2 separate regions of the Homo sapiens genome follow, and region 2 is linked to region 1. The links come from fine-mapping of genetic effects on gene expression. A gene starts in region 1. The other region holds a variant in brackets. All regions are shown on one strand. Distances are from middle to middle. Region 1 holds the start of PFDN1 (prefoldin subunit 1). Region 2 overlaps CYSTM1 (cysteine rich transmembrane module containing 1).

Evidence for each region. PIP is the estimated chance that this variant, and not a neighbour inherited with it, causes the effect.
Region 2: its variant is fine-mapped to the expression of PFDN1 in whole blood (TOPMed, PIP above 0.99).

Annotation. Positions count from the first base shown.
Region 1 is chr5:140,297,924-140,309,171 of GRCh38, forward strand. PFDN1 (prefoldin subunit 1) reads right to left here and starts at 5,178. Exons shown (of 4, transcript NM_002622.5): 1 at 5,118-5,178; 2 at 2,493-2,659. The coding sequence starts at 5,150. RefSeq lists enhancers at 1,007-1,523, 4,915-5,194 and a silencer at 5,083-5,287.
Region 2 is chr5:140,224,156-140,235,403 of GRCh38, forward strand. The region is part of intron 2 of CYSTM1 (cysteine rich transmembrane module containing 1); the gene reads left to right. Among named protein-coding and RNA genes, the nearest start is that of CYSTM1, 55 kb to the left of the region's middle. The variant C/T (reference allele first, on the strand shown) is at 6,070.

The sequences.
Region 1 (11,248 bases):
GAAATCCAAGTACAACATGTTAATAAAGCTGGCATTACTGTTTTAAGACCTAAGGATATTCACATTAAGGATAAAATTATCCTGTAGTGAATGCCAACAATGCATTTCATACTACACAGACACATATTCAAGGGTTCTACTTTGTTCCAATTCTTTTGTGTCCCAGTAACAAACTCTCAAATTGGGATCCTTATCCTCTTAAACTAAAATGAAATATATGAGCTTGGACATAAAATTTACTTGTGCTACATTATTCATTCTGAGAAAGCAAATCAGATGAACAATTTAACATAATCTAATTCTGAACCATAAAGATATGGATTAGTCAGTGATGAGCAGGTCTACTTCTCATGATGTCATTCCAAAGTCATTATTAAATTTTACACATGTTATTCTTTCTTCAAATCAATCACAAAACAAGTCATCCCGAGACTGAGGTCAAATTCCATTCTAACTAAAAGATCTCCAAATCTGAAGTAATGGTCTACTTACTAAGTAATACTCAAAGACCAAATTCCAGAAAAACCCTCCTCCTGTACCTCCCCCCAACTTAAAAAAAAAAAAAATCAGTCTTCTCCTTTTAGCTCACTGTAATGGAATGTGACCTGTACTTAAGGGCTTTTCCATTCCTTTTTTTCTGCTTACAGAATATGAAGCAGACCTATTCTCTCTCACAAGGGCAATATGCTTTTAAAAGAAAAAAAAGTGAAATGTACGAAGTTAATAATGTATTAATTAGAACAAACAAAAGTAAAATAATTTACTAGATTTCTCACATGTGAGTTGTCCTCCTATTAGAACAATGCATGACACTTAGAATGAGTGTATTTTTTACTTTTTTTTTTTTTGAGGCAGAGTTTCACTCTTGTTGCCCAGGCTGGAGTGTAATGGCGCAATCTCGGCTCACTGCAACCTCCACCTCCTGGGTTCGAGCAGTTCTCCTGCCTCAGTCTCGTAACTGGGATTACAGGTGTGCGCCACCATGCCTCGCTAATTTTTGTATTTTTAGTAGAGATGGGGTTTCACCATGTTGGCCAGGCTGGTCTCAAACCCCTAACCTCAGGGGATCCACCCACCTTGGCCTCCTGCAGTGCTGAGATTACAGGCATGAGCCACTATGCCTGGCCAGAATGAGTGTATTTAAATGACAATTGAATTTTTATTTTTATTTTACAACACTGATCAGACATCTGAAAGATTTATGATTTGTATCACTCCTAATAAATTAAGCAGGGAAGAGGAGGTTAAAACTGCACCTACTTAAATAAATCTTCTTCACATACAATATAATATTGCTATAAACATTTTCCATGACAAATCATTTTTATTACTGAACTTACACTTAAGTACCTAATCATAGACAGAACAGGAAAGTAAGCACTTAAGAAATGTACTTTGAGGCCAGGGGCGGTGGCTCACGCCTGTAATCCCAGCACTGTGGGAGGCCAAGGCGGGCGGATCAAGAGGAGAGATTGAGACCATCCTGGCCAACACGGTAAAACCCCATTTCTACTAAAAATACAAAAATTAGCCGGGCATGGTAGCATGCGCCTGTAGTCCCAGCTACTCAGGAGGCTGAGGCAGAATTGTTTGAACCCAAGAGGCGGAGGTTGCAGTGAGCCAGAATCACACCACTGCACTCTAGCCTGGCAACAGAGCGAGACTCTGTCTCAAAAAAAAAAAAAAAATGTACTTTAAAGTCTAAACTTAAACACTTTAATTAATCTACCTGAAGTTCAGCTCCTCATTTTAAAAAAAGAAAGCATTTAATTAGATAATCTTTAAAGTTATTTCTAAGATACTTTAACCTGCCGGGTGTGGTGACTCATATCTGTAATCCAGCACTTTGGGAGGCTGAGGTGGGCGGATCAGGAGGTCAGGAGTTCCAGACCATCCTGGCAAATATGGTAAAACCCCGTCTCTACTAAAAACACAAAAATTAGCAGGGCGTGGTGGCAAGCGCCCGTAATCCCAGTCACTCAGGAGGCTGAAGCAGGGGAATCGCTTGAACCCAGGAGACGGAGATTGCAGTGAGCCAAGATCGGGCCATTGCACTCCAGCCTGGGCGATATAGCGAAAACTCCGTCTCAAAAAGAAAAAGATACTTACTTTAAACCAAAGTTTCTTTTGTTTTGAGACAGAGTCTAGCTCTGCTGCCCAGGCTGGAGTGCAGTGGCATGATTTCGGCTCACTGCAACCTCCACCTCCGGGGTTCAAGCGACTCTCCTGCCTCAGCCTCCCAAGTAGCCAAGACTACAGGCAAGTGCCACCATGCTCAGCTAATCTTTGTATTTGTGGTAGATACAGGGTTCCACCATACTGGCCAACAGGCTGCCCTCAAGTGATCCACTCGCCTCGACCTCCCAAAGTGCCAGGATTACAGGCATGAGCCACCACTCCTGGCCTAACCCAAGTTTTAAGATGAACAAATTCTATTTAACTCGGACAAAAGCACTCCCAAAATAACTCCATTAAGGACACATTTTACTTACATTCTTCCTACACCTTCATACATGTTAGTCTCATCTACCAAAGTCATGATCTCTGTATCTGTAAGATGTGCATGCTTTTTCGTTCTGTTTAGCTGTTCAATCTGTATGTCTGCGAGCTTCACCTTCTGTTGAGTGTCAATAACTTTGGCTTGAAGCTCTGTGAAGGCCTAATAAAAACAAGTCCATGATTTAGTAGGTAAAACATTTTACAGGAAACATTTACCTCAAATCCAAATATATTAAAACAAAATATGCTAGCCAGAGACAAAGCTGTGAAATTTACCAAACATCAATAAAAGTCAACATAACTGTAAACAATCAAGTCACCATACTAAATACTGAATTTACAATCATCAGAAGATACAATCAGTGTGAAGCAAATCAAATGCATATTAAGTAATAACCATATTAAGTAGCAAGTACTCAAGGAGTAGTAAAAGAAATAAATGCAATAGTCAAGGATGAAATCCAGAGATTCAAAACAAGAACCATAAAAGTAATAACTCACTACATTTGTATTGCACAATTAGGTTTCAAAGCACTTTCTCACATTAGTTTGAAATATTAACATGGGAATATTAATATAAGAATATTAATGAGGAAATATAATAAATATCTCATTTATGCCTCTCAGTAATTCCATGAGTTAGCATTGGCAGTCTCATCATCCACAATTTACAAATTAAGTAACCAAATGAGTTAAGAGATAAAAGTGGCTTGCACAAGGTTGAACAACTACTGGGGGGAAGGCAGGTGTTATTTAAATCCATTTCTTCTAACCCCTTAGTTCAGCAATCTTTCCATTCCACTGTCTATAGTAATATTCATAATATGAACATTTTTAAGAGGAAGACCAAGAAAGAGAGTGAGAAAAAATGCAAAGCACTGGCAAAAGAATTGCATCATGATCTTCATCCACAGATACCAGGCCAAATTTGACCCTTGCGTACACTTACTTAACTGGAAGATAAACAGTTCTTGGATACTTTTGTTGAAGTGCCTGGAATGACTTTCACATGCTGTTAAATTTGTGCCTTAATAACATCTGTGACTGCAATGCACAGCAAAGGCTACTACATAATTTTTATTGTGACCTTGTTTTCACCTACTAGTAAGGTTTTGAAAGATTTACTTTGGGGAAGGGGAGGGGCCTGAAATTTCCTATTTGTCTCCACCCAAAAAAAGGACCCTGTAAAAACATTAGAAGATAAAACCTTTAAACAAGTTTTTTAATTAATTGGTTATCAAAATTATTCATTTTAAGTTTGTAATCATTTTCTTAGTTTGCATTCACCGCCCGCAAGTTTCAAATGTAGCAATAAATTCAAAAGTACCGGGAGGCAAATCCATTCACTAAACCCTGATTTAAATCGGTACTTTTAACAGAAGAAAAGGTAAATTTTTAGAATGCACAATTTTGTTTTGAAATGTAAAATTCCAGGTATCATCTGACTGCTCTATACAGCTTGCTAAGGAAGCTAGTATACCATTAAAGATGAGCTAGTATACTGTTAAAGATTAGAGACTCCACCTAAGAGCTAAATTTACAAGATTCAAGACAAGAAGAACAAAAGCAAGACACAAACACATAATATCCTCACAACACTAACAAAAGCTTCATTTGTTAGAAGCAACAGCTATTTCGGCTGTCCTATTTCTTTTACACAAGTTGACCACAGGCAGTCTTAACTAAGATGTTGCTCATCTGAAGAACTCAAAATAGTGGTCAAAAAAGTGTGAGATAAGGCAGAGAATACTGGATTCTAGTCCCAACTTCTGACAGACTTTTCTGGCACTGGTTCCTTTTCCAGAAAAGTAGATTTAAAATAGATAAATTCTAGGGTCCTTTCCAATCCACCCCACCGCACAAAGCATACTGGTTTGGGGTCATTAGTGGTGTTAGAATGCTGATCATTCTTAGATAGCAAAAATCTGAATAACAACACATTTATAAGCAACTGAGGAAAACAGGAAACCCAATTCCTTCCGATACCGGTTTTATTTGGAAAACTTTACTGGTTTTGTTTTGTTTTTGACAATTCCTTCAAAAGAAGGAGGTTTTGTTTTGTTTTGTTTGACGAGTCCTTCAAAAGAAGTGGAGGGGGGGCAAAATCCTGAAATGAACATTGCTGCTACAATGCTTGGTTTTCCGAACTGTAGATATTGCAACTTTCAAGGTACAGAACCGAATAAATGGCCTAAAAACAAAGGTTGGACTTGGAGTTTTTCAAAGCAAATGAGGCAGAATTACGGATGCCACAGCTCAGGCAAGGGGTCCGAAGGGACCCCCATTTGAAATGCTCTCTTTAGTTCTTACTATGAAAGTGAGTCCCTGAAGCCTCCAAACGCAACGAAATGTCTCTGGAGCTCAGAAAGACTGGACAAGCCCGAGACAGGCCCGCAGACTTACCCGACCCAGACCAACCGGCTCCTACCCAGCAAGAGCCGCTCGCCCCCCACCCCGTTTATGGAGACCCAGTGAGGCCTTAGGACTCTGGGAAACCATTCCCTAGTCCACTGGACCCTCCTTCCTTCTGCAAGGCTCGTGCCTCACTTGATATTCTTGTCTATAGTCCCCTCAGCCTCCAAAAAGAAGACCTCCGCCTGCCAAAGACCCTCTTTTACCTTCTTCAGCTCTAGATCCACGGGGGCGGCCATCTTGGTGCACTGTAAGCGCCTGCGCAGTGGGAGTTGGACTGAAATAGGGTGGGGAAGGGCGCGTCTTACTTTGTGCGCCGGTCTTTCTTCTGCGCCTGCGCATGAGTTGGACTAACCGGGCTTCTTATCTTTCTCTGAGAATTGACTCCTGAAATATTTGGGTTTCGGATTCCGTGTCTTCACTACCTGACCGGTCAGGTCTGGCTTGCTCCTCCGTATCTTCCAGACATAGCCCAACGCGCAGATTTCCCATGTGGCTTTAAGCAGTTTGCCAGCTAGCTTAATATGTGCTGCTAAATTGAGATGTATGTAGATGAGGTCAAACCCTCATCAGTCGATCAGTCCTTCAGCTAGTCGCTGTGCTCTCAGGAATGAGTAAGAGTAAGTCCAGAACCTCAGGCATGACAGTTTGGGAAAGACTATTGGAAAGCTTGTCTGGAGTGTTCTTTCCAAAACGAACTTATTACTTCCAAAAGCTTCCCAAAGACATTCTAGGCACAGTGGTTCTCAAGAGAGGCTGAATACGTTTGTTTAAAAACAAAAAAATGCAGGTTCTCTGGGTCTCATCTCAAACGTACTCAGAATCTTTGAGAATGGGGTCTGGAAATTTGCACTTTTGCAGACTACCCCAGTGACCTAATGGTGCAACTCCTCCGCGGATCACTTTTTTGAGAATCTCTGCCATAAAAGGACCTGGCATTTGAACCAGAATAGATAATAATTGACTTTTGGAAATGGAAAAAAAAGTTAACCTACTCTAAAAACTGTTATGCTAAGAGAAAGTGCTACATAAATAATTAGGAAATTTATTTTATTTTTTAAAAAAAGAAAGAAAGAGAGAAAGAAAACAAACTGTTAGGGAGATGAAAGGGCAGGGAATTTGGAACCAGCCTAATCTAGATTCAAGGCTTGGTCTGCCTTTAGCCTATGTCTGGTTCCATTTACTAATTGTGTGACTTTAAGCAAGTCACTTGGATATTTTGTGGGGTTTTTTTTTTTTTTTGTACGTTTGTTTGTTTCTTGAGACAGGATCTTGCTCTGTCACCCAGGCTCGAGTGCAATGGTGCAATCACGACTCACTCCAGCCTCTACCTCCCGCGCTCAAGCGATCCTCCCACCTCAGCCTCGTGAGTAGCGCTGGGACTACAGGCGCGCGCCACCCACACTCAGCTAATTTTTATATTTTTGTACAGACGGGTTTTCACCTTGTTGCCCAAGCTGGTCTCAAACTCCTGAGCTCAAACAATCCGCTCGCCTTGGTCGCCCAAAGTGCTGTAGTGCTTTGATATTAAAGGCTTGAGCCACCGCACCCGGCCACATTTTTTTTTTTTTTTTTTTTTTGAGCCAGGGTCTCGCTCTGTCACCCAGGCTGGAATGCAGTGGCACGATCTCGGCTCACTGCAACCTCTGCCTCCCAGGATCAAGTGATTCTCCTGCCTCAGCCTCCCGAGTAGCTGGGATTACAGGCGCCTGCCACCACGCCCGGCTAATTTTTGTAGTTTTGGTAGAGACGGGTTTCACCGTGTTGCCCAGGCTGGTCTCCAACTCCCAGCCTCAAGTGATCCGCCTGCCTCGGCCTCCCAAAGGGCTGGGATTACAGGCAAGCCACCACGTCCAGCATCTGCCACCTATTTTTAATGAGCTTCAGTCTTCTCATGTTTGAGAGTGACCATATTGACCTAACAGGGTTATTGTGAGAAATAAATGAGATCAGGATAAAAAGCTCCAAACATAGCTCCATGCACACAAGTAGATACTCAATAAATCACTGGTGTTAATCGCCGTCCTGTTTGTCTTTCAAAGTCCAGCAAATGGGCACTACATCCCCCATCACACAGAGCAAAGATAATCTCTCCTCTGAACTCCCCTCACAACATCTATTTCTCTCTCAAGGCATATAACACTGTCTACCTTTTTTTAGAAAACATTTTTCTTAGACTGTAAGCTCCTTGAAATCAAGAACTATGGAATAATGGTTCTTCCACCTCTTGTACCTAGAACACCTGTCACAGTGCATCACGGGAAAAAAATACAAAATGGATACTGGATGTGAATAAATTATTCTGGAAAAAAAAAAGAAGACTCATTCCTCCCCAATTTGAGAAAGAGTAAAAAGGATCTGATATTTTGATTCTCTGGGACCTTCTTAGATTCTCATTACAGATGATCAATAAATACTGACTGATTAGCCAGGCATGGTGGCATGCCCCTGTAGTCCCAGCTACTCAGGAGGCTGAGGCAGGAGAATTGTGTGAGGCCTGGAGGCCAAGGCTGCAGTGAGTGGGGATCAATTGTGTCATTGCACTCCAGCCTGAAAGACAGAGTGAGACCTTGTCTCAAAAAATAAAATAAAATAAAATAAAATAAAATAGTGATTGAATATTGAAATTCAAAAAAAGTCTGAAATACTGTCCTGTACATTACCTCATGAGACTTTTGAAAGAGTCCTCATAGAGATGTATGGACTGTAAAAGTTAAGAGCCTGGGCTAAGCTGTCAGACAACCTGGGTACAAATACTGATTATACTACTTAAGGGTAATATGATCTTAGGCAAGAGTCTTCTCTGCATTGTTTGTTTGGTCATTGTTTCTCTTTGTGTATTTGTATACTACTTCTTCCTCATGAGTTTAATTTCCTTTTTTTTTTTTTTTCTTTTTTGAGACATGGTCTCATTCTGTCACCCAGGCTAGAGTGCAGTGGTTCAATCTCAGCTCACTTCAGCCTCCACCTCCCGGGTTCCAGCAATTCTCCTGCCTCAGCCTCCCTAGTAGCTTGGATTACAGGTGCATGTCACCACCTGGCTACTTTTCGTATTTCTTGTAAAGATGGGGTTTCACCATGTTGGCCAGGCTGGTCTTGAACTCCTGACCCCAGGTGATCCACCTGCCTCAGCCTCTCAAAGTGCTGGGATTACAGGCATGAGCCACTGCACCCAGCCTAATTTCCTTCATGATAAAGGAAATCCTTCAGTAGGTTCTTTTAGTAAGAATGTCTGATAAGTAAATTCTCTTCATCTTTGTTTTACAGGTTGAATTGTGCCCCCCACAAAAGATATGTTGAAGTCCTAACTCCCAGTACCTCAGAATGTGACCCTATTTGAAAGTAGGGTTTTGGGACAGGCGTGGTGGCTCATACCTATAATCCTAGCAGTTTGGGAGACTGAGGCGGGAGGATTCTTTGAGCCCATGAGTTTGAGACCAGCCTGGACAATAGGGCGAGACCTCATCTCTACAAAAAATAAAAAAAATTAACCGAGTGTGGTGGCAGTTATCTATATTCCCAGTTACTTGGGAGGCTGCAATAGGTGCATTGCTTGAGCCCAGGAAATTGAGGCTCCAGTAAGCTATGATCTACCACTGCACTCCCACCTGGGTGACAGAGCAAAGCCATGTCTCAAAAAATAAAAAGAAAGGGAGAAAGGAAGGAAGGAAGGAAGGAAGGAAATGGAGTTTTTACAGAGGTAATCAAGTTAAATGAGGTTATTAGAGTGGGCCCTAATGCAATATGACTGATGTCTTTATAAAAAGGGGAACTTTGGACACATACAGACACACACACAAGGAGGACTATGTGAACAGACATAAGGAGAAAGCCACATCAAACCTGGGGCTATCAGGCCAGGCGTGGTGGCTCACGCCTGTAATCCCAGCACTTTGGGAGGCCAAGGCAGGCAGATCACCTGAGGTCGGGAGTTCAAGACCAGCCTGACCAACATGGAGAAGCCCCGTCTCTACCAAAAATACAAAATTAGCGGGGCGTAGTGGTGCATGCCTGTAATCCCAGCTACCCAGGAGGCTGAGGCAGGAGAATTGCTTGAACCTGGGCGGTGGAGGTTGCAGTGAGCCGAGATTGTGCCATTGCACTCCAGCCTGGGCAACAAGAGCAAAACTCTGTCTCAAAAAAACCATCTGGGGCTATCAGAAACTGGAAAAGGCAAGAAGGATTCTTCTCTTTCGGGTTTCAGATAAAACATGGCTTTGCCAACACCTTGATTTTGGACTTCTAGCCCCCAGAACTGAGACAATAAATTTGTGTTGTTTTAAGCCACCCAGTTTGTGGTACTTTGTTGTGGCAGCCCTAGAAAATGCTCTGTGTATATCTAAAAATGTACATCAGGCCAGGTGTGGTGGCTCATGCCTGGAATCCCAGCACTTTAGGAGGCCAAGGCAGAAGCATTGCTTGAGGCCAGGAGTTGAACAAGACCAGCCTGGACAACATAGTAAGACCCCATTGCTACAAAAATTTTTAAAAATTATCCAGGTGTGGCACACCTCTGTAGTCCCAGCTACTTGAGAGGCTGAGGCAGAGAATAGCTTGAGCCCAGGAGTTCAAGGTTGCAGTGAGCTATGATCTGCCACTGCACTCTAGCCAGGGTGACAGAGCAACACCCTGTCTCAAAAAAAATGTTTTTTGTTTTTTTTTTTTTTGAGACGGAGTCTCACTCTTTCACCCAGGCTGGACTGCAGTGGTGCTATCTCGGCTCACTGCAAGCTCCACCTCCCGGGTTCATGCCATTCTCCTGCCTCAGCCTCCCAAGTAGCTGGGACTACAGGCGCCCGCCACCGTGCCCAGCTAATTTTTTGTATTTTTAGTAGAGACGGGGTTTCACCGTGTTAGCCAAGATGGTCTCAATCTCCTGACCTCGTGATCCGCCTGCCTCGGCCTCCCAAAGTGCTGGGATTACAGGCGTGAGCCACCACGCCTGGCCAAAAAATATGTATATTTTTTTAAATAAATAAATGCATATCTAAAAGGTTCACCCTTATTTTTGAATGACAGCTTAGCTATATATAGAACTATAGGTTGACAATTATTATTGAAGGCATTTTTCCATAGTTTTCTGATTTTATATACTGATAAAAAGTCCTCTGTCAGGCTGCTTTTCATTTCTTTGTTAGAAATCTGTCTTTTCTCTGGTATATTTTAAGATTCACTTTGTCTTTGGGTTTTGCCCTTCTACTTTGATGTGTGTGTTTGTGTTTGTGTGTGTGTTTGTAGATTAAAAATATATACCTAAAAATTCACCTAAACCTTTATCTTAAAATGTATATTCTAAAAATCTTTCTTACTTGGTACATAGTATGCTTCTTCTTTTTTCTTTTTTTCTTTTTAATTTTTATAATAGAGATGGAGGGGGGTGTCTCACTCTGTTGCCCAGCTGGTCTCGAACTCCTGGCTTCAAGCAATCCACCTGCCTCATCTTCCCAAAGTGCTGGGATTATAGGCATTAGCCACCATGCCTGGACCATAGTATGCTTCTTTAATCTAAGGATTTATGTCAGTTCTAGAAAATGTTCAACCAGTATCTCATGCAACATTGGCTCTCATTTCTCCTTGTAGAACTCTCATTAGAAGTATGTGGAAGTATCCACATCTCTCAACCTCTATTTTACACTTACTATTTCCCTGTGCTAAACCTTAGGTTTCTACAACACTCTCCACCAACTTACTAATTTTCTTTTCAACTATGTCTCGTTTACCATTTAAAGCATCCATTAGTATTTTATTTCAGTAACCATAATCCTATTTTTAAAGACACGGGGTGTTGCTCTGTTGTCCAGCTTGGAGTGCAGTGTTGTGATCAATCATAGCTCACTACATAGTGAGAACACATCTCTACAGAAATAAAAATAGAAAATTGGCCAGGCGCGTTGGCTCATGCCTGTAATCCCAGCACTTTGGGAGGCCAAGGCAGGTGGATCACAAGGTCAGGAGTTCGAGACCAGCCTGACTAACATGGTGAAATCCCGTCTGTACTAAAAATACAAAAATTAGCTGGGCATGGTGGTGCACGCCTGTAATCCCAGCTACTCAGGAGGCTGAGGCAGGAGAATCACTTGAACCCGGGAGGTGGAGTTTGCAGTGAGCCGAGATTGCACCACTGCACTTTAGCCTGGGCGACAGAGTGAGACTCCATCTCAAAAATAAAATAAAATGAAATATTAGCCAGGCATGGTGGTATGCACCTAGCTACTCAAAAAGCTGAGGTATGAAAATCACTTGAGCCCAGGAGTTCAAGGTTACATTGAGCTATGATTGCACCACTATACTCTAACTTGGGCAACAGAGCAAGACTCTGTCTCCAAAATTTAAAAAA
Region 2 (11,248 bases), 74 kb before region 1:
TGAGACGGAGTTTCGTTCTTGTTGCCCAGGCTGGAGTGCAGTGGCGAAATCTCGGCTCACCGCAACCTCTGCCTCCCGGGTTCAAGCGATTCTCCTGCCTCAGCCTCTCGAGTAGCTGGGATTACAGGCATGCGCCACCACACCCAGCTAATTTTGTATTTTTAGTAGAGATGGGGTTTCTCCATGTTGGTCAGGCTGGTCTCGAACTCCTGACCTCAGGTGATCCGCCCGCCTCGGCCTCCCAAAGTGCTGGGATTACATACGTGAGCCACCATGCCCAGCTGCCGCAGACTTTCTTACAAAACTCTAGGAAGATTAGACAAATATCTTCACTAGAGGTTATTTATGCAATAGGCATTGTTTCTTTTTTTCTTTTATTTTTGGAGACAGGGTCTTTCTCTGTCACTTGGGCTGGAATGTGGTGGTGTGATCATGACTCACTGCAGCCTCAAACTCCTGGGCTCAAGCAATCCTCCTGCTTCAGCCTCCTGAATAGCTGGGACTACAGGCATGAGCCACCACACTCAGCTACTTAAAAATTTTTTTGTAGAGATGGAGTCTCACTTTATTGCCCAGGCCAGTCTTGAACTCGTTAATTCAAGGGATCCTCCCGCCTCAGCCTCCCAAAGCACTGGGATTACAGGTGTGAGCCATCATGCCCAGCCTGGCATTGTGTTTTTATAAGGAGTTGTCTATGCTATGGGAATACATCAGTCATCGTGGTTTCACTTCAAGATGGTGTCATACCAGGCACAGTGGCTCATGCCTGTAATCCCAGTACTTTGGGAAACCAAGCAGGAGGATGGCTTGAGGCCAGGAGTTGAAGACCAGCATGGACAACATAGCAAGACCCTGTCTCTACAAAAAATTTTAAAAATTAGCCAGGTGTGGTGACATGCACCTGTTGTCCTAGCTACTTGGGAAGCAGAGGTTAAAGGATTGCTTGAGCCCAGAAGTTTGACGCTGAGGTGAGTTATGATCATGCCACTGCACTTCAGCCTGGGTAATAGAGCAAGACCCTCTCTCTAAAAAATAAAAATAAAAAAGATGGTGTCATTCTTGCCATGCAACAAACTGTTTTCCTACATAGGTGTCACTGCCCATTCAGGATCAGTGGAACGCTAGGACTGGCAGGTGGTGTAGGCAGATACAGGTGAATCCCACTGTGGGGATTCCTGCTGGGGTGACCACAGTACCTGGGTTGTTTAGGCCTTCAATCAGTGGGAGGGAGTTGGGGAAGGGGTTGTTACCAGGCATGGGCCTGGGCCTGGCAGTCAGGATACAGGAGGTGTCTGTGGCCCCTGGACTCCAGCCTCTGGCTGCCATCCTGATTGTTCCCATGTCCCATATGTTTCTCTTCTGTCCCAGGCTCAGTATACAAACTCCACATCCTCTGACTTGGAAGCTGCCCAGCCCTGAGCTCTGCCTGGGCTTCCTAGTCATACTTCCCAAAGATGTGACCGGTTTCCCTGACTTTGAACCTTGGCTCTGATGTCATGTAGTTAGTTGAGGCCAAAGGAAAACTGATGGGGACTGTTCATGTCTGTGTGTGAGCTGGAGTGAAGGAAGGTGTGCCTAGGCAGGGCCTTCGGTTCCTGGCAGTCCCCTCCCCAGCATTCTTGTATTTTCCTGCCGTGAATCTACTGGAGATAGAGATCTGGCTCTGTTCTGCTCTTCCTCTTCTCTCTGAGTGGCTTTGGGCATATCCATCCCTTGCACTGGAACTCCGTTACCTCCTCTCTACAGCGAGGGGCTAACTGATCTTGCAGGCCCCTTGCTCCTAGAATAGCCTGTGACTCTGACTCCCAGCCTCCTGTTTATTTCTGAGGCTTCTTCCCAGAGTGGGTAAACACCTCCTCTTCTTTCTCCCTGTCTACAAGAGGCCTGCTTTTGGTCAGGGGAGGGGTCTGCCTGAAAGGTCATAGGCATTTGAATAATAGTAATAACATCAGTGAGCATTTACTGAATGCTTTCCAATGTGCGAAGCACTGTGCCCAGCATTTTACATGCATAATCTCTTCATTTTCCCAGCAACCCTATGATGGGGTATAGATTACTAATATTATTCCTGTTTTATAGCAGAAGAAACTGAGGGTTGGAGAGGTTATTACCTGTCCAAGGTTACATGGCCAGTGAGTAGATGACCCTATATTTAAATTCAGCTTGATATTTTATTAAAATTCCTATTCTGGGCTGGGCGCGGTGGCTCACATCTATAATCCCAGCACTTTGGGAGGCCAAGGTAGGCGGATCACTTGAGGTCAGGAGTTCGAGACCAGCCTGGCAAACATGGTGAAAACCCGTCTCTATAAAAAATATATATATATTTATATATATATAATATATATAAATATATATTAATAATATATAATATATTTATATATATTAATAATATAATATATAATATAAATATATATTATATACTAAATATTATATATATATATATATATATATATAAAAATTAGCCAGATGTGATGGCGCATGCCTGTAATCCCAGCTACTTGGGAGGCTGAGGCAGGATAATCACTTGAACCTGGGAGGCAGAGGTTGCAGTGAGCCGAGATCGCACCCTTGTACTCCAGCCTGGGCAACAAGAGTGATACTCTGTCTCAAAAAAAAAAAAAATGTGGAGGGGATATTTCCAGGACACAGGAAAGGATGAGCCCAGTGACAGTACTGCTGATGCTGAGAGAAGGCCAAGGGGTGGGGTGGGCACTACCAAGGGTCAGCTGAGTAGACGCTGAAGTTCCTGACAAGGGTCCTGGTGCTGCTGAGGTCGCTGACTGGCAGAGGTGGAGAGCAGCAGTGTGGGAGTCAAGAATGGAGGGGCTCTGCTGAGGAAGTGAGAGGAGAAAGCGGAGTATGATGGATGTTCACACTCACTGGGGTGAGGGGAGCCAGAGGGCTGGTTAGGGACCTGGAGGTGGCCCCTGGAGCATCATGGAATCCTCAAGGCTGTGCATAGGCAGAGACCAATGGCGCCTGCTCCCTTGATGCCGTCTTCCCCAGAACCTGGCTCAGGTGGGCTCCTGAGTACCTTCCCAAACCCCAAGAGAAGAGGCTGGGGTTGATTTGGTAAATTCTGAAGTACTGCCACCTGGTGTGAAGGGCCAGGGGTTGCAAAAGAAGCCTTAATGAGCTGTTTGGGATCTTGCATGGGCAGGGGGGAGAGGGTTAATAGGGGCTCAGCCCTAGGAATTGCAGCAGTATAGGGGTCCTCTCTGGTTTGAGCTCCTTGGAGGGAGAGTTGTGATTTGATAGCATCCCCTACTTGCCAGGTTTGCCCAGCAGAAGTCCTGGTGCTAGCCTAGAACTCAGAGGCTGCAGGGCCTGAGAGGAGACAGAATTGGATTTAAGGCATATTTGATAGGTGGAACTATGGGTTAGGAGGTGCCAGGTCAGGCTATAAGAGGAGCATGGTTGTGGGGAGTTGGACCATGTGAGGTGTCTAGGTAACAGTGACTTAGGGAGGCAGCCCAGGACTGAGGATGGGGCCACTGGGGCTAGGAGCCCAGATTGGTCAGTGCCCACTGCCCCTAAAGCCCCCGGAACTATCTTAGAGCAGTTGAAATAGACGCTTGAAGAGATCCAAGGCATTCTAAAACTAGCTAGGCCCCACCCTTCTGCCATGAGGACCCCCAGGAGCAGCTTTGAGTGTGGCATTGGAATCAGACGAGCCTGGATTTGAGAAAAATGTAAAAGCAAAGTGAAAACCTCCACCTCTCTCCACACCCTGACCTTTAAGTTCTTGTATATTTCAGAAATGTGTGTGTGTGTATTTGTGTGTATATCCTTCTTATTGTACAAATAAAATAGATGCACTGCTCCAGACCTTGCTTTCATCCCTTAAATTATTGGTCACGTGGAAGAACCACCTGGTTCTTTTAGTAGTAGTCTATTATGTGGTGTGCTTTAATTTACCCAACTGGACTCACCTGATAGACATTAAGGCTAGTTTGGGGTTATTTTGATGCAGCAACAACCATACTTTACATAGATCCCTGAACGCTGGGACAATTATTTCTGCAGGATAAATTCCAGATACAAATTTTCTGGGTTGCAGTTGTTGTCTCTCCCCTTCTCCCTAAATTCTCCTTCAAAGAGATTCTGTCCATTCCCACTCCTGCTAACAGTGTATGAGAGTTATAAAATGATGATAATAATACAGAGCTGTTGGGAGGATTAAATGAAATCATATGTAAAGATTTCCGCCGGTGCCTGCCATATCAGGGCAGGCTTCAGGGGTGGGGCTCAGGGCAAGGGTTGCATTGAGAATTGGATCACTTTGGACAAGCAACAAATAAAGTACTGGGTTGGGTTTCCTGGTCAGCTTGGAGGAGAGGTGGCAGGAACAGTGGTCTGATAGCTGCTGAGTACCTGATGTGTGCCAGACACTGAAACAGGGAAAGCGCAGTGAACCAGATCAGCTTGGCCCCTGCCCTGCCCTTGTGGAGCTAACAATCTAGACAGAACCAGTCTGCAGAGTGTGGTAAGTTCTACCAGCATGCTGCCACTCCAAGTCCCCTCTGACTGGGTCTCTCTCTCCTCTGCCCGCCCTGCACCCCCTTCAACAGTGTACGTGATAGAACGGGAAAGGAAGATGGACAGCGGGTGTCAGGCAGTCCTGGCTGCTTGCTGGGCTGCTCTCTGCTGCTGCTGCCTCCTGGACAACTTGAACTGAGCAGCTAAGATCCGAGTATTTCCCTACAGCCCTGCTACCTCCTGTTACAGGAATAAACAACTACTGTTGCACAATTTCCATTTTCTTCTTTCTTTGACAATAACTCACAGATTTTTAAATTTTAGCACCTTTCATAGGTGTGAAATGGTATCTCACTAATTTGCTTTCCCTGATTACTAGTGACCTTGAACATAAACATATAAGTTTTGGGCAGTTTGTACATATCTTGTGAATTGATTATACATATTCTTAGCCTGTCTTTTCTGTTGGTTTGTCTTACTGATTTGTAGAGAATTTCTATATATTCTATCCACTAATATTTGTCTGTTTTATAGGTGTGCAAATATCTTCTTCCTATCTGACTCTCTTTTTTTTTGGAATGGAGTCTTGCTCTGTTACCCAGGCTGGAGTGCAGTGGCGTGATCTCATCTCACTGCAACCTTTACCTCCTGGGTTCAAGCAATTCTTGTGCCTCAGCCTCCCAAGTAGCTGGGATTACAGGCACGCGCCACCATACCCTGCTAATTTTTGTATCTTTTTAATAGAGACAGGGTTTTGCCATGTTTTCCAGGCTGGTCTTGAACTCCTGAATTTAAGCGATCCACCTGAGATCCAAAGTGCTGGGATTGCAGGTGTGAGCCACCATACTTGGCCTCTCTTAATCTTTTTATGGTGTATTTTCTAGTATGAGAAATTTTAGAAGTCATGTTTATCATCTTTCCCTCGTGCTTTGTATGGTTTAGTCTTTGAAAACTCATTTTCTATTCCAAGCTCATAAAAATAAGTCTATATTTTCTTTTAAAAATGTTTAAGATATAGTCGTTAGTCCACCTGATTTATTTATTTATCTATTTATTTATGTATTTATTTATTTTTTTGAGACCTAGTTTTGCTCTTGTTGCCCAGGCTGGAGTGCAATGGCATGATCTTGGCTCACTGCAACCTCCGCCTCCCTGGTTCAAGCGATTCTCCTGCCTCAGCCTCCCAAGTAGCTGGGATTACAGGCATGTGCCACCACACCCAGCTAATTTTGCATTTTTATTTTATTTTTTGAAATGAGGTATTGCTCTGTCACCCAAGCTGGAGTGCAGTGTCACGATCTCGGCTCACTGCAGCCTCTGCCTCCTGGGTTCAAGGGATTCTCTTGCCTCAGCCTCCCAAGTAGCTGGAACTACAGGCATGCACCACCATGCCCAGCTAATTTTTGTATTTTTAGTAGAGACAGGGGTTTCACCATGTTGGTCAGTATGGTCTCGAACTCCTGACCTCAGGTGATCCATCCATCTCAGCCTCCCAAAGTGCTGGGATTACAGGCGTAAGCCACCGCGCACCTGGCCCTGAATTTATTTTTTATCATGGGTGTAGGATAAGATTCTAGTTTTCTTTTT[C/T]CATCTTGGTAGTTCCAGCTGCATGTATTAATTAGATCATCCTGTTACCAAGCAAAAGGGGCTCACTGCCTGATGTGCTAGAAGCCAATTCCATGACACTGGGTTTTTGAGAAAAGAAATGCTTTTATTATAAGTTAACAATTAGACAGGATTCCAGCTCAAATCTGTCTCCCTGTCCTGGCTTTAAGGCAGTAATTTTATTAGAAAAGGTTAGAGGGGTGGATTCCAGGATGAGAGATGGTTGATGGAAGGAAAGAAGAGGTTTGGAAAGTCCTGGGGCATGTACAATAATCTCTTCATGCTACCTCTTGGATCCCATGTGCAAATTCAGGGGAGGGGTTAGCATGAAACATGCAGTGAAAATTCAGGCTGTGACATCATCAGCAGGCTCATTCTGTCCAAACTCCAGCTGGCCATATTGGTTCTAACAGATTTCACTCAGTTCTTTTGCCTCATAAGCAGAGGCGTTTCAGTGTTTCAGCAAGTTGTTTCTTGACTGCCATCTTGTAAACTCTGTTAGGGATTGGTGTCTTTAATCTTTGGGGCACAGTTTCAGTCCTTTCCCTATTAATCTGAGATGAGATTTGTCATATACCACGTTCCCATATACGAATTAGAATATGAGCTAGAATCAGGAATCTGGTGTGATGTGTACCCTCCTTCCACCAGCACGTGCATAAACACATACCTCTTATTCTTTTTCGTAATTTTCTTGGCTTTCTCGGCCTTTTACTGTTTCATCTACATTTTAGAATGTGTGTTAGTTTCTACAGAAAACCATGTTTGGCTTTGATTGGAACAGCATGTAATTTATCAAGTAATTGGTGAAAGAGTTGACATATTTACAATATTGTCTTCCCACCATGAACAAGTAATCTCTCAATTTATTTTTGTCTTCTTTTTATGTCCTTTAAGTCTTAAAATTTTCTTCACATAGTTCTCACATATTTTTATTGGTTTTTAAAATTAGATTTTTCTCCAGGTATAATTTTAATGTTACTGTGAATAGATTACTTTTTTAAAATGTTACATTTATTACTTGGTGGAAATAATTTATTCATTCCATTGGGATCACACATTAGAAAATTTTAGCCCATCTTTGTCACACCATTCCCTTGGGGGCAGTTCAGCTGTGAGGGGAGCAGTTCTTCAGTCTGTCCTATGCATGCTCCAGGGAAACCACCAGGGTTCTACAGAGACAATCATGGATTCCGTAAACGTAGCTCCAGAGTGTCAGGTGACAGACCACACAGAACAAACCCCCAATCCCTGCTTTTGCAGGGCTTATACTCTAGGGAGGGAACCAGACATTAAATAAACCCACAGGTAATAATTGACATCATACTTCCCTGTGAAGAGAAGAGACATAATGCCATGAAAACCTACAAAAGGGGAACAATCTGGCACAGTCCAAGAAGGCTTCCCCAAGGCAGTGAAGTGAGCTAAGATCTGAAAGATGTATAGATGTCAGTAGGCAAAAGTGTAGGAACAGCAGGTGCCAAGGCCCAATGGCAGGAAAGATGGTGGCTCATTTGATAAAGTGGAAAAGGAAATTGGTGTCATAGGCCGCAAGGGGACATTAGGAGCAGTTGAGAAACAGGCAGGAACAAGATGGAGGCTCATAGCCCAAGTTAAGGATTTTGGTATTTGTCTTGTGAGTAATGGGAAGCTGTTGAAGGATATTAAGCAAAGGGATGATATCACATTTGCATTTTTAAGAAATCCCTTTGGCTTCTGTGTGGAGAGTGGTTTGGAAGGGGGCACAGGTACACATGGTGATTATGGAGAGAAATGAATGCATTTGAGATATTGGGAAGTAAAATCAACCAGACTTGGTGATGGATTGGATATGGACATTGAGGAAGAAGGTAAGAGTCAGGGATGACTTCTGGGTTTCTGACTGGAACTGGGTGCCTGGTGGTGGTGTTTACAGAGGTTGGGAACAAGAGAAAGGAATCATGATTGGTTGAGAGAGAGAACAAACTGAGTTAGTTTGAGGTTTCAAAGTATCTATGAGACATTCAAGTGGAGCTGTCAGGTAAGCAATTGTATATAAACCTGAAGCTTGGAGGAGAGGTTGGGCTAGAGATGTCAATGTGGAGAGCCTTGGCATGTTGATGATCATTGAAACTGTGGCCGTGAGTAAGATCAACTTGGATGGAAATATGGAGGGAAAAGGAAAGATGGCAGTGTAGGGCTGAGCTTTAAGGAATTCTGGATGGATCTGCAAAGGAGTCAGAGAGAGAAAGCTAGGAGAATGGGATGTCCTGAGAGCTGAGTGAAGATGTATTGGGAAGAGAGGATTGATTAGTAACATCAAATGTTGCTGAGAGATTAGGTAAAGTGAGAACGCAAAAGTGTCTACACTGTTTTCACTGAGGAGGTGGACTTTTCTCCAGTTCTTGTTCTGTGAAGGAAATCAACAGAAGGAAAGACAAGACTGCTTGGAACTAGAAGACAGGGCTCCTCAGGCCTGGAGAAAGGCAGACATGTGTGTAAGCATGGAACAGGCAAGCTCACAGGTGCAAAGAACTAGCTGAGGCAGGAAGGCTAGGAACCTCCACTAAACTGGACAGAAGCATGCTAACAAAACATTGAGTTCCAAAAAGGTTAGACATCAAGTAAGGGAGTCAGGCTAATGTCACTCAGCTTTGAGCCTGAACAGAGGAGACATTGTTCCTCAAGAAGACTATGTCCTCTGCGGTAGCTGCTGGAGGGTCCAGCACATAGATAACCAAACAGATGACCATCCATGCCCTGGGGAGGTCCTTCTGAACAGTAGCAACAGTCTAGATCTTTCATGACCACCATTACAGATTTTGCTAATATACATCTTTTGAAAGGAAACTCTACATGCAACTCCAGTCTGGAAAATAGATACTATAGAATTGCTGTGGTTGAGGCAAAGAGGAACCACCCCCTACTTTTTATGAAAGCTTAGGGGCCTGAGGAATACATTTGAAAGCCCCTGGTCTTTGGGATTTTGCAGTGCATTTGGCCACAGGAGATTTGGGATGGTAGGTTTTGCCCTGGAATGTCATTCCAGGATACTGCCTTGCGAGCACAATCATCAGTGTGTTAACTGCTGGTGTATTCTATGAGGATCTGTGGATACTTTATTGCTGAGAAGTATTCCATTGTATTAGAGGTACCCCAGTTATTCATTCACCTGTTGAAGGACCATTTGGGTTGTTTCTACCTCTGAGTGATTATGAATCCATCTGCTATAAACATTGACGTTCAGGTTTTTGTGTGAACCTAAGTTTTCATTTCTCTAAGCTGAATACCCAGGAGTGGAATTTCTGGATCATATGGTAGGCTTAAGAAACTGCTACTCTTTTCCAAAGTGGCTTTGGCATCGTGCGTTCCTATCAGTAATGAATGAGAGTTCCGGTGGCTCTGCATCTTTGCCAGTACTTGATATTGTCAGCAATTTTTATTTTAGCCATTCTGATTGTATGTAGTGGCATCTCATTGTGGTTTTAATTTGTGTTTTCCTAATAGTTAGTGATGAAGTCATGTGCATATTTGCTCTCCGTATATCCTCTTTGGTGAAGTGTTTTTTCAAGTCTTTTATCCACTTTCAAATTGGGTTGTTTTCTTACTGTGGACTTTTGAGAGTTGTTATATATTTTAGATACAAGTCCTCTGTTGGCTGTGATTTGCACATATTTTCTCTGCGTCTGTAGCCTATCTTTTCATCCCCTTAACCGTGTCTTCCATGGAGCAAAAGTTTTCATTGTGATTAAGTCCAGTTTATCAATTTTTTATTTTATCACGTTTTTGGTGTCAGTCTAAGGACTCTTTGTCTAACCCCAGGTCATGAAGATGCTTTTCCATGTTTTCTTTAAAATATTTTACAGTTTTATGTTTTTCATTGAGATCTATAATCCACTTGGGGTTAGTTTTTGTATAAAATGTGAGGTTTAAAATAGCTGAGGGGTTTTGTGAGGTGTTCTGCATGCCATACCAATATTTTTCAAAATGCTTTCTCCAATGAATTGCCTTTGCTTATGTGTCAAACCAGTTAGCCATGTTCATGTGGGTCTATTATTGTCTTCTTCATTCCATTCCTTTGATCTATGTGTCTGTTTGCCAATACCATTAACCGGTTATCTTGACTACTGTAGCTTTATGTTAAATCTTCATTTTAGTCATTTTAGTTCTCTTTCCTTTCCATAAATTTTAGAATTTGTTTATCTTTATCTATTAAAAACTCCTGTTGGGATTTTTATTGAAATTGCATTAAATCTATAGATCATCATGGGGCCTAATGGGTATTTAAGTGGGATTGGTTGCTCACCCTTACATGCCATAACCTTTAATGATGGCAGGCAGCCTGCCCATTCATTTGCTGGGTTGTAATTATTCCACAGTTAAAGCCCCTAGTGTATGATTACATTGGTGTCTTTGGAAGTTGGCAGTAAATGAGGTATACTATTCATTAAATTGGGTAGGAACAGCCATTACAAGATGGCCAGTATGTTGAGGGACTTGTGGGCCGGGTTATGCTCTGAGTCAGGTCAGCCACCATCATTCACAACCGTGGTCTTCCTGTGCCTCACTTCTGAGCAGGTCATGAGCAAGATCATACACTGTTTGCTGCCATTGGAAAATCCTCCCTCCCTCGAGGTCTTTACACCGTCATCACAGGGTCATAGAACTGTCATGTACTAGGCATGATTAGGTTTTTTCTCTAGATTTTCCTTAATTTCTTCTGCCTGGTATATCAGCCTCATTCATAATTTTTTTTTTTTTTTTTGAGATGGAGTCTCACCCTTGCCCAGGCAGGAGTTCAGTGGCGCGATCTCGGCTTACTGCAACCTCCACCTCCAGGGTTCAAGCGATTCTCCTGCCTCAGCCTCCTAAGTAGCTGGGATTACAGGCGCCCGCCACCACGCCTGGCTAATTTTTATACTTTTTAGTAGAGATGGGGTTTCGCCATGTTGGCCAGGCTGGTCTTGAACTCCTGACCTCAGGTTATCTGTCTGCCTCAGCCTCCCAAAGTGCTGGGATTACAGGTTTGAGCCACCAAGCCCAGCCAGCCTCATTCATAATTATTCCTCCAAAAGCTGCATTAGGGATATGTTCATGATATATGTCATGATATAATGAACTGCTTCCTCCTCCTACTGTAGTAATGTCACCCATGACATTGGGTCTTCAGCACCAGAAAAAC